2 linked regions of the Homo sapiens genome follow. The protein of the gene in region 1 interacts with the protein of each later gene in a biochemical or structural test. Each region holds a gene or a part of one and is shown on either strand. Other genes may lie near its edges.

Evidence for each region.
Region 2: the proteins of FBXW8 (region 1) and TRIB1 form a complex in vitro, tested with the Homo sapiens proteins (one study listed by BioGRID).

Annotation. Positions count from the first base shown.
Region 1 is NC_000012.12:116,913,950-116,921,154, forward strand, and holds part of FBXW8 (F-box/WD repeat-containing protein 8), read left to right. Parts: intron 1-4,581; coding exon of another isoform or gene 4,582-4,782; intron 4,783-7,205. UniProt on the Homo sapiens protein: Substrate-recognition component of the Cul7-RING(FBXW8) ubiquitin ligase complex, which mediates the ubiquitination and subsequent proteasomal degradation of target proteins.
Region 2 is NC_000008.11:125,433,166-125,438,916, forward strand, and holds the end of TRIB1 (tribbles homolog 1), read left to right. Parts: intron 1-151; coding exon 152-444; intron 445-2,840; coding exon 2,841-3,306; 3' UTR 3,307-5,238; downstream 5,239-5,751. UniProt on the Homo sapiens protein: Adapter protein involved in protein degradation by interacting with COP1 ubiquitin ligase. The COP1-binding motif is masked by autoinhibitory interactions with the protein kinase domain.

The sequences.
Region 1 (7,205 bases):
CAACTTTTGGGGCACCTCTAATTTTAAAGAGGACTTTGTAGGCCAGGTGTGGTGGTACACACCTGTAATCCCACCACTTTGGAGGCCAAGCCAGGAGGATTGCTTGAGCCCAGGAGTTCAAGACCAGCCTGGGCAACATAGTGAAACCCTGGTTCTACAAAAAATTTAAAAAATTTAGCTAGGTGTGGTGGTGCACCCCTTTAGTTCTAGCTACTTGGGAGGCTGAGGTGGGAGGATCGCTTGAACCCAGGAGGCTGAGGCTGCAGTGAGCCATGATTGCACCACTGCACTCCAGCCTGGGTGACACAGCAAGACCCTGTCAAAAGCAGGCAAAAAGCAAACTTTGTGGCTGGGCAAGGTGGCTCATGCCTGTAATCCTAGCACTTTGGGAGGCTGAGGTGGGTGGATGGATCTCTTGAGCTCAGGAGCTCAAAACCAACCTGGGCAACGTAGAGAAACCCCATCTCTACAAAAATTGGCCAGCGTGGTGGCATGTTCCTGTAGTCCTCACTACCTGGGAGGCTGATGTGGGAGGATTGATTGAGGCCAGGAGGTCGAGGATGCAGTGAGCCGGGATCACACCACTGCACTCCGGCCTAGGTGACAGAGCGAAACCCTGTCTCAAAAAAAAAAAAAAAAAAAAAGGCTGGGCCTGGTGGCTCATACCTGTAATCCCAGCACTTTGGGAGGCTGAGGTGGGCAGATCACCTGAGGTCAGGAGTTCGAGACCAGCCTAACCAACAAGGAGAAACTCTGTCTCTACTAAAAATACAAAATTAGCCAGGCATGGTGGTGGGTGCCTGTAATCCCAGCTACTCAGGAGGCTGAGGCAGGAGAATCTCTTGAACCCAGGAGGCGGAGGTTGTGGTGAGCCGAGATCGTGCCATTGCACTCCAGTCTGGGCAACAAGAGCAAAATTCCATCTCAAAAAATAAAAAATGAAAACAAGACTTTGCAATCATTAGTAACACTGCTATAAATAAAGTTATAATTCATTGTGTGCGTAAACTGTCTCCTTGGTACTGTCTTAAGGGTTTAGAGACATTATCGTCTTCATTTCTCCCAACAACTCTCTCCAGTGGCTATTTTCAACTAATCTGTAGATGAGCATTAGGAAAGTAACTGATTTTTAGATAATAAACCTACTCCTTCTCTCCAGGCTGATAAATGATGACAAGGTTTATGGAAAAGGCTTGGATTCCTGTGTCAGTGGTTGCAAGCCCCAGAGCCCACAGGGCTAAGGCAGGTAATGCACGTGAGTGAGGTAGGCTGGGTGTTGCACATTAGGTCTTTTCTCCCAGCTCATCAGGTGTTTTTATGTGTTCTGGTCATAGCTTTATAATTCGTTTCATAGTGGCAGCTGTTCTTTTTGTCACAATTAAACATGTAGGAATTGTCTTTAAACATGGCCATCTTGGTCTTGTTTTCCCACTTTTAAAAGTTTTTAAGCTCAAACTATGTATTGACCTTTACAAGGGCCTAAATACACAGCTTGATGAATTTTCAAGTGTACACATCCATGTAAACAGCAGCCAGGTCACAGGGCAGCATCACCAGCATGTCAGAACCACCTCCCCTGCCCTGTGTTCCCTTCCACCCAAGGGTAACCACTCACCTGACTTCTCTTCCACCCAGGGGTAACCACTCACCTGACTTCTCTTCCACCCAAGGGTAACCACTCACCTGACTACTTTTTTTTTTTTTTTTTTTTTTTTTTTTGGGAGATAGAGTCTTACCCTGTAACCTAGGCTGGAGTGCGGTGGCATGATCTTGGCTCACTGCAACCCTGACTTCCCGGGTTCAAGTGATTCTTGTGCCTCAGCCTCCTTAGTAGCTGTGACTACAGGCATGCACCACCACGGCCTGCTCATTTTTGTATCTTTGGTAGAGATGGGGTTTCACTATGTTGGCCAGGCTGGTTTTGAACTCCTGGCCTTGTGATCTGCCCGCCTCGGCCTCCCGAAGTGCTGGAACTACAGGTGTGAGCCTGCATGCCTGGCCTCACCTGACTTCTAACACCACATTTAGTTTGTTTGTTTTTGAACTGTATATTAAGTGGAGTCAAACAGCACATACTCATGTGTCTTTGAGTTCTCGTGTATGGCATTATCTGTGAGATTGATCCCTATGAATATGCCACATCTTATCTACTGTTGATGGGAATTGTTGCTAGTTTGTTGATAGCCAGTTTGGGACTCTCAGATATAGTGCCACCATAAATGTTTTGTACATCTTCTGAAAAATGTGTCCACATTTTTCCTGAGTATTCATTTGGGAGTGGAATTGGTGAGTCATAAGGTATGCATAGATTAGCCTTGGTAGATACTGACAGTTTTCCAAAGTAGTTGTACTGGTTTTCTCACTTTTGATAGTAACTTGTGTATGTGGAATGTAGTATTTCACTTTCTTCTTTACCATAAATCAACACCCAGCTGAGATGACATGACAGCAGAACTTGACCCCAGCATGGGCAAGATGATAAAGACACATTGGGAAATACATGCCATGGCTGGGGTCAGGGTAATAACCACTGCCCCCATTAGCTGGTTGTTGCCCTGTAGGAATGTGGTCCCAGTGTTGTAAGGTCTTTAGATTTTTTTTTTTAATTGGGAATATGTATTTTTATGTGGACTCCTTCAGTTTTTTCTGCATGAGAAAACCATCCAAGCTGGGCATGGTGGCACATGCCTGTACTCCCAGCTGCTGGGGGAGTTGAGGCAGGAGGATCACCTTAGCCCAGGAGTTTGAGACCAGCCTGGGCAAAATAGATTCTGTCTCACTTAAAAACACCATCCAAAACGTTGGCTTAAAACAACCACGATTTAGCTCACCATTTTGCAGGGTGGCAGCTTGGGCTGGGCATGGGTGAGCTCACTCGTGTGTCTGAGGTTAGCTGTGGTCACCTAGGCTGCTCTGCTTCTAGGGGTTGGCTAATTGTGCGTGTGTGTGTGTGTGTGTGTGTGAGAGAGAGAGAGAGAAAGAGGTGTGTATCTGGGTTATGAGTCATCATACAGCAGCTTAGCTTAGCCCCAAGTGGGCATTCTCAGAGTTACAAGAGCAGCAAGAGGGCGAGCCCCAGTGGCCAGATGCAATGGTGCTTTTGAAGTCTGCATAGGTCATGTTTGTTATTCTCATGTGGCCAAGTCCAGAGTCAGTGTGGATTTACCCAAGTGCTTGGATACAGAGAGACATGAACAAATTTGGGGCCATCACTATGTCAGTCTACCTCAAAAGCTCTTCCAATTTTTAATTGTTGGTAACTAATAAAAATTAATAAGATTTTAGGTGCTAACATTGCAGGTTAAACAAAACCTGTCAGTGGGCTAGATCTGCCTTGGGTAACCATTTTATCATCTTTGCCTTGTGCCTTCCCAAGAATCCTTGCTTGATCCATGGGTGGCTCCTGAAAGGAAGAGTTAGTTCCATTTGAGACTCCCTAGAATCTTTAACAGAAGCTGATCCACTTGACATGAATGGGAAATAAAATCTGGTACTACCTTCTTACACTTCCTCCCTGCCCCCGTTTCTTCTCCAACCTTTGGCACTTTCATTAGTGCACCCTGTTGTATTTCTGGTGCAGTCTCCTCCACTTCAGAGTCTTCAGTATCCATCACTAGAGAGAGAACAACTAATAAGTTAGCAATCAAAAGTGAAGTTGCCTTTGGATGGGTAGGTGAGCAGTGCTGCCTTGGAGTGTCATCTGGCTGGTATAGGCCAGAACCTCTGATGGGCAAGCAAAGCTGACATGAAAACGCAGGACTCACTGGGCATGGTGGCTTATGCCTGTAATCCCAGCACTTTGGGAGGCCGAGGTGGATGGATCACGAGGTCAGGAGATCAAGACCATCCTGGCTAAGACGGTGAAACCCTGTCTCTACTAAAAAATACAATAATTAGCCGGGTGTGGTGGCACGTGCCTGTAGTCCCAGCTACTGGGGAGGCTGAGGCAGAAGAATTGCTTGAACCCGGGAAGCAGAGGTTGCAGTGAGCCGAGATTGCGCCACTGCACTCCAGCCTGGGTGACAGAGCAAGACTCCACCTCAAAAAAAAAAAAACAAAAAAAAAACAACGCAGGACTCCTCCCAAGCCTCATGTTTTATGAAGCTTTTAGTAATAGCACTTAGCAGCCATCTCTTTTTAGGTGATGAGTTGGGAATACCTCAGTTGGCACCTGATAGAGTTCTTAGTATAAGTAAACTAGTGAAAGAACACATCCCTGGTCAGAATTTCAGAGGCAGTAGGCACTTTCTCTGTTGTCTTCTCTTCTCCTCTGTTCATAAACCCAGGCTTCTTGGAGATAGTGGATATACCTGAGTATAATTGCAAGTGTGCTGCTTTCTTCAGTGGAGTGGCTGTGATACCAACTTGCTTGGGCTCCATTTTTATTTAGGTGGTGTATCAGGACTCTGGGCTGCAGGCAACAAGCACCCAACCCAAACTGGCTTAAAAACCCAAACTGGAATCTATTGATTCCTGTAACTGAAAATTCCAGGTGGTAATGTTTGTTCTGGGTGCTTACCTAAGGTAAGTAGGATTTGCCTTCTCTTAATCCTGCTTTCCTTTTGTTGACTTTATTCACAGACAGGCTTTCCTCTTGGGGAAAAATGGCTACCAGCAACTCTAGTCTTCTATCTGCTTAGCAACTCAAGGGAAAGAGAGCTGCAAGTCATGAACCTAAATTCCCATTGCTGCAAACTGGGTCATGTGTCCACCTTTCAGCCAATCACTGATTCAAATTGTTCAGACTCGAATCCATTGCCCATTCCTGAAGATGAAGGTGAGGTCAGCTCTGCCTAAATTGTGTTGACTAAGAGTGGGAGTGGGATGGTTTCCTAAATAGAGGAAGTGGATGTTGGGCAGGAAAAAAGAGCAATAACTGATATCCATTTTAGGTGGGTGTGTGACGCAGCACTAACTGAGAATACAGTAGTCCCACCTTATCCACTGGAGATACATTTCAAGACCCCCGGTGGGTGCTTGAAAATGCAGATAGTACTGAACCCTGTATATGCCATGTTTTTTTTTCCTATATACACAGAGCAATGATAAAGTTTATAAACAAGGCACAGTAAGAGATTAACAGCAACAACAAAATAGAACAATTACAACAGTATACTATAATGTTATATGAATGTGGGCTCTCATAATACTGTACTGTAAGTAACTGATGCTATGGAAAGCAAAACCGCGGATAAGGGGGGACGACTGTGTTTTCTGTTCATCCAACATATATTCATTGATCAGCTCAGTGCTGGGGAATCAGCAGTAAACAGAATGGCTCCTTGTCCTCAGAGAGCCTAAAGTCTTGTTTCTTTTAACTAAAAGAATGACATTAATGGAGTCAGGACAGTCTTGGCTATGGGGCTGGGCTCTGCAGTCAAGCAGACCTGAGTTCAGATTCTGGCTCTGCTGTTACCAGTTTGCCTTGGGCAAGTTAATTTCCCCTGCCTTAGCTGTCAAATGATGATGATGTTAGTACCTATCTCGTGAAGAGGCAATGAAATAGGCATGGAACTTAGCACTGAGCCTGGAGTACAGTAAGGGCCCAATAAATGTAAGCTGGTGCCATTATCGTTAGTACTCAGAGTTTGCTATGCTATTTTACTTCCTCTTTACTGAAGCTTATCACCGATAAGCCCTTAGCTTCCGCCTCTTGTGAATCCCTGGAGGGCAGGATCTGTTGCCTTACTGTTCTAACTCCACCTGCCTTACTAGTACAGTAGGGGCCCTATCTATGTTTGTTGAGTTGAAATAATGTGGGCAAAATTGCTGCTTCTGACTGCGACTTTATAAAGGCTCTATGATTGTTAGAACCCTTGAACATTCAAAGCATCCTTCCAGGTTAAGATATGGAGTTTTAGGTCTGCTGAAAGTTTTAATACTGCTGGCCAATATTTATCACTCACCATGTCAATATTTAACCTGTCAGATCCTGCATCTGTGTTGCCAACAAGATAGATTTAATGGCTTAACCTTCTTCTGTTTTTAAGTTAAACACAAATAAGTAAGCTCCCTAATGTGAACACTTTTCTTCTGGCTAATATGCAGTGAGACAGCAAACCAAACCAAATGTGTACTCATGAATTGACTTAACTGGAATAACTTCCTTTCCTCTTTCCTGTTCTTTGCCTGCCTTTTAAAGCTCAGCTTGAGTTCTGTCTCCTGTGTTAATTCTTCCGTGATTTCTCCAGCCCAAATTTCTCCCTTTCCCCCAACTAAAAAGTTCTTATCCTCAGTGCTGTTCATTTTTTCATGTTATTCGTGAATTAGCAGGCCTCCACTTACGAACCTTTTGAAATGATGCCTGTGTATACTAGAACAACTTGTGACTTACATGCGGTCTTTGTTGGAACGGTCTGCTGCTTGAAGCAGCTTGGGTTTCATTCATATCCCACAAATATTTATTAAGTGTCTTCTTGGTACCAGCCACTGTTCCAGGCACTGAGAATATAGCATTGAACAAGGCAGAAAAAAGCCTGTGCCCTTGTGTAACTTACATTCTGGGGAAGAGGGAGTTAGACAATGGACAAATAATTGTCAGGTAATAAATAAATGTTCTGGAGAAGAAATAAGCAGACAGGATAGAGTGTATCTGCCAGGGGAGGGGCTGTAATTTTAAATAGTGCTGTCCAACAGGGTCTTTCTGGGAAGGTCACATTTCATGGAGAACCTAAAGGAGGTGAGGAGTGAACATACAGAGATCTGGGGGAGGGGATTCTAGGCCAAGACGGGCAAGTGCAAAGGTTCTGTGGTGACCAGGACCCGCACTTAGTTTAATGCTCTGTTGCCTTGATCATTTGTAATGATCTTAATCATTTGTGACCAACAGGCCCCCCAAATTCTATAGCCAATCCTGATGGTGGGAATGTGCCTGCAGTGTTTGGGACCCTTAATGTGAACATCTTTACTCTTTTCACAAACCCACTGTGGTTTCAAAAACCACACCCACTGTGGTACCCCTCTGGGACCTGAAGCTTCTCCTCTTCCTGTCTTCTCTCCTCGCCATGTCCTAAAGCTCAGATCCCAGTTTAGACTAAAAGGGGGCTCAAAGCAGAGGCCCAGCCCATTTTGCTTCACACCACCCTCCTTCACCACCACACCCAGCCTCCTGGGATTTCCCCCAGCACTTGCATTTCTTTAGATTGGCATCTTCTACCTTCTTTCCTTGCCAGAGTCCCCAGGAGAGTGAGAATATGTCTTGAAGC
Region 2 (5,751 bases), on another chromosome or scaffold:
AAGGTAAGGTGGCAGAGGAAAGGAGTAGGTGAATGGAACTTACTCACATCCTAAGCCCACAGGTTGAGAACTTCTGTTCAGCTCCCTCAGGGGTTTGGGAGGCTGCCTTTGCTTTTCTAGCCCCCTAAACGGGCCCCCCTTCTCTCTACAGGTGTTTCCCATTAAACACTACCAGGACAAAATCAGGCCTTACATCCAGCTGCCATCGCACAGCAACATTACTGGCATTGTGGAAGTGATCCTTGGGGAAACCAAGGCCTATGTCTTCTTTGAGAAGGACTTTGGGGACATGCACTCCTATGTGCGAAGCCGGAAGAGGCTGCGGGAAGAGGAAGCCGCCCGGCTCTTCAAGCAGATTGTCTCCGCCGTCGCCCACTGCCACCAGTCAGCCATCGTGCTGGGGGACCTGAAGCTTAGGAAGTTCGTCTTCTCCACGGAGGAGAGGTGAGCGGCCGCCACAGCTTCTCCTGTGGCCTTTTGGAACCAAAGCGGAGGTGCAGGTCATGTAGTTAGGTGCTGTGTGTTGGTGCAAAACAAAGTCAAGGGCTCATATGTCCCAGATTTAGTATTTAGAGCTTCTGTTCCTGAGGAGTCACAGCCAAGGTTGGTTTATTCTGCATTCTCTTGGACGGGGCCTGGGGACACCGTGGCGCTTCTATGGGATGGCAAGTGTTGACAGGGTGCTCTTCCTCTCCTACCCCAGGATCAGGTTCATTCCCCATTGTTGTCAGAAAGGTCAGTTGTCTGGGGTACAAATATTAAACTGCCCTTTACGATATTGCCTTCTGAAGGAAGTGTTCAAATCTTTGCTTATGCCAAGTGCTGTTTTGTACCTGGAAGGTTTCACAGAGCTAGTGAGACTGTCATATATGCAGAATTCCACCCTCTTGTTTCACACAGCATTCCTCTCCCATCCCAGTCCAGGTTCTCTGTAACATCACATTCTCTGGTGACTTTTTAGACAGCTTGTTTGGATCCGTCTTCAGAAAATAGCCACATTGAATAGTAAATGGAAGTTGGTTAGGATGGATTGCTAAATATAGATCATAGCTTACCTCATAAAGAACAAGATGAGCTTGATAAGAGAGTAATGAGGCATTAAGATTCAAAGCTGAGGTTTCAGCTAGAGAATTCAGGAAGCCGCATGAGATAGACCACACTTGATTTTAAGAGCCAGCCACATCCCTTGTGGAAAGATTACAAGCAGTAAGGCTGTAACATTGTAGAGGTGAGAGTGAGTTAGTTTGTTGTAAGAAGTGGGCTTATCTCACCTGTGCATTTTTACCTTTGACTCCAGAGCATATGAAACAGTACAGGGTTGAGCTGTCATAAAGCATGACTTTGTATCTGACCTCGCAATAATTATTGGAACACACTGATTAGCAAAGAAAAGCAAACTGTTGGCAATGAAGAAGTTTCTAATTCCTGGAACATGCTCCTTTGATATGGTGATGCATTTTCTGAAACATGCCTTACACACCTCCTTACTAGCTTTTGAAATCTGCATTGCACAGGCGAATATCATGGGCATGGGGTTTGGCAACCCGGGGGTTAAGCAATGTCAGGCTGACGCTATTCGTGTAACCAGCACAGGTGCAGGGTTTTAGTGCTGTAGCAGCCAATCAGGGGCAGACAGTGTGGGTTGAGTCATATTTTCCGTTTACAGAACCAATGGGTATTTTACATAACGACAGGGAGGTCACGCTGAGGACATACTGAAGTTAGCACATGTATACTACACTCCAGGGAACAGGAAGGCAGAAAAAAAAAAAAACAGACCTTTGAGAGGAAAAGGAATTGACCCATCAGCCAGTACCAAATGTTTGCATTTAACTTCACAAGTGACTTACTGAAACGGGTATTTCAGAGAAGCAGGCAGAGACAGGGTGTCACTGGATATCAGAGCTTCCCCACCACATGGCTTTGAGCTTTGGGGGATCCAGGAGACTTGGGTGGCTGGTTCTGAATAAGGAGGCACCTGCAGCTTCATAAGAGAGCCTTTGACTGAAGGTGTTTTAGACTTTCGTTGTTACCTGAACAGAGACCCCCCCTGTAGAATACATATGCTCACATGTTGATGTGCCATCCCAGGGGGAGTGTGTGTCCCTGTGTAAGAATTTCAGGGTCCCTGCGTCCCTGAAATCCATCAGCCACTTTTGTTTGCTCGCATAACCTCTCTGTCCAGGCAAAGTGTTCTTTGCAGTTAAACACCCCAATAAATGTAATTAACATTCCTTGCAACTTTCCCATCCTAATTGTTGCAGCCTGGGCCCAGGAGGACAAAGTTTGCTCTGTGTGCATGTATCAGTGTGGGCACCAGCGCTGATGACCTGTGTGTAATAGCAGTGACTTTGGGCTCCGTGTTCTGTAATGCAGTGTGGGTCCAGGTAGCCCTGGCAGTCATAAGAGGGAAGATGGGTTCGTAGGATGCTCAGGCCCTCTCTGAAGAAGTAGGATATGCTGCTCTTCCCTGCTAGCTTTTGTAGAGAATGCAGCATTCTGAGACAGGCTCCCAGTTCTGCAATGGGAACTTAGTAAATTGCGTAACTCCTATTAGGATATCTCTTGTAAGCTCCAGCATTATGAATACTATTTGGGGCTTTGCCTCATACCCTCCACCCCAGGCGCTCTGCCGATACTTTGCAAACATTTATTGCAGTTCGTGTTAGTTTGTGAAATCAGGAGCCCTCGGTAGTTGCAGGGCACTGCTTACTGGACGAAGGGGTAAATAGCATTCCTGGAGCCTTTGCTGTTAGTGCCTGTGGGCGCTGTTATTGGGAAGGCTTTGTTTTTCATAGCAGCTGGTGTGGAAATAATGGCTTGGTTCCTCTCTCTTGCAGAACCCAGCTTAGACTAGAAAGTCTAGAAGACACACACATAATGAAGGGGGAAGATGATGCTTTGTCAGACAAACATGGCTGCCCAGCCTACGTGAGCCCTGAGATCCTCAACACCACTGGGACCTACTCCGGAAAGGCTGCGGACGTTTGGAGCCTGGGGGTGATGCTCTACACCCTTCTGGTTGGACGATACCCCTTCCATGACTCAGACCCCAGTGCCCTTTTCTCCAAAATTCGGCGTGGACAGTTCTGCATTCCTGAGCACATTTCCCCCAAAGCCAGGTGCCTCATTCGCAGCCTCTTGAGACGGGAGCCCTCCGAGAGACTCACTGCCCCCGAGATCCTACTGCACCCCTGGTTTGAGTCCGTCTTGGAACCCGGGTACATCGACTCAGAAATAGGAACTTCAGACCAGATTGTTCCAGAGTACCAGGAGGACAGTGACATTAGTTCCTTCTTCTGCTAATCCCCAAAACCTCAGAAACCTCATAATTCTTAACACCTGGCATTTCCATTTCTAAAGATGGACAGGCCCTTTGGCGTGGTACCAACCAGATAATGACTGCATCAGGATGAAAGCTGCTGAACTCGGCATGGCGCCTCCTCTTCTCTGTTGGGATGAGTGACTTTATTGATTTGAGCAGCATATGCTGTGATTGGCTGCCCTGCAAATTTGTTTCCCTTAAGGAACCCTCACCAACTATCTCTGCTGGATTTGGGAGTTCCGCATCTTTTGTGGAGGGCAGAGTATGGACATCTTACACCCGGTGGTCAAGTGTGTAATAAACTTGAGCATTCGAATGGGAGAAAAAGCAAATCGCACAATGACATATTTTGAGTAATAACCGTATTTTTCACAGGGTGACAAATTGGGCCAATAAATCTGCCATCTTTGAACTCATCTTTGGTGGCTAGACTGCTACGGCAGCTTCTCTGATGGGAAAGTTCCTTTTTTGGCTTAACACTCACCCTTTCTTCACACTCACATTTACCAATGACTCTGCTCCGTTTTTGGAGCAGACTGTTTTAAGTTGCTCAGGAGCCTGATGGAACCATGAACCGAGACTCTTCTCTGTTTCCTGCCAAGACCTCATCTGCACTAATGCCTTCTCCCTGACCTTGACACTTCCCCCTTTAGCTATAAAAGCACTTACCAGCCGAACGTGGAACAGTATCACAAAAGATTCCATCTCCCAACGATTTCAGAACTCTGAGCTCAGAGAGACTCCAGATTTTAAAAAATAATTTGAGTGCTTGGAAACTATTAGCTTTTTAAGTTCCTTCCAAATATGTTAGTACCTACCCTTTACTTTTTCCCCAAGACCATCTCAGGGTGGAGCATTCTGTCTAAGAGAAGAAAGATAAGGAGGCTCCCACCCACCTCTCCCAAGAGCAGACATTAAACATCTTTGTGCTTTGAAGAGAGTGAATTTTGGATAGTCTTGTGATTCTCAGACTAACTTCCAGAATTATACTTTAACCCCTCCCAGATATGGTCCGCCTTTGGCATTGTGTGTACATCTGCAGTTTTGCATGGTGGGTTGTTAATATTTCAAATGTGTGGTTTATGAATACGTCTGTATAATCGGCTTCTGGAGTGAAACAGCAAACCCCAAATCTTCAAAGTTGGAAGGAACTTTAAAAATCATCCGGTCCAATCTCTTTCCTCTTTCTGCCACCTCCCAAGGCAGAAATCCCCTCTTCAGCTTCTTTTGTAGGTGGGAATCCAGCCTCTGTTAGATATGTCCAGAGATGGAAACTCACTCCCCTACAAAAGATGGAGCTTAATGGAGAAATTGCAACTTTCATTAAAAAACAAATTCAGATGAAATATCAGTAACTGTCTTGGACAGTGCTGAAATCAGGTGGTTAAACGGGTAAACAAAATATACTGTATTTTGAGAAATGGCACAAAAACAGGCAGTCATCTTTAAGGGCTATGCCTAGGCAAACTACTAACATGCATTGTGAGAATGCCGTGTATACCTCACGTACTGTGTACTTTGTACATATATTTTACCTTTTATACCTATGTTCGATTTTGTTTTGTTTTGTTTTGTTCTGGCTTTGAGGCTTGTTTTGTTGTCTGTGTCTGTCTGAATAACCTGCGTGTCTAAAACCACGTGAAATGTGAATGATTATTGGCAATATTACCTTGACAGAATCATGGGACTTTGAGAAGAGGGAGGACAGAGGCCTCTGTCGCACTAACGCTCTCGTGGTTGCTCGACTGTTGTATCTGTGATACATTATCCGACTAAGGACTCTGGGCTGGCAGGGCCTTCTGCCGGGAAAGCTAGAAACACTAGGTTCTTCCTGTACATACGTGTATATATGTGAACAGTGAGATGGCCGTTTCTGACTTGTAGAGAAATTTTAATAAACCTGGTTTCGTAAATAGGTGTGGTGAATTTCTTTCGAGTTCCATCTGCTTTGCCTTTTGCAATTTCATGCAGAGGTTGCAAAGGTCTCTGGCCTCAGGACTTACAGTCTAGTTGGGGGTGAGCAGCAAGGGGAAGGTGGAAAAGTAGAGATGATGAGGATCATCGATGACCTTTGGCAGACTTGAACCCATTTGCTTTTCTCATTTCAGTGGGCAAATTTATTTTGATGGATGAAGCCCATTGGGTGTTGATACGTGCTTTGGGTTGAATTTAGACTCGGGAAACATTTTTTATTTTTTATACTCTTTCATAGCAGAATCAGAATCAAGAAACGTTTGAAGGTGAGCATTCATAAATTAACCTTGAGTTGTAAAAATCAGCTTGTCTTTTTTGGGCCGTGGACCCTTGAGAATTTGATAAAGCTATGACCACTCCTGAGAACAGTGTCACATGTATAAAACAAAATTTTGTTATCATTGCAGAGGTTCACACAGATCTCTGAAGGCATCATGGGACTTCCGATTGTG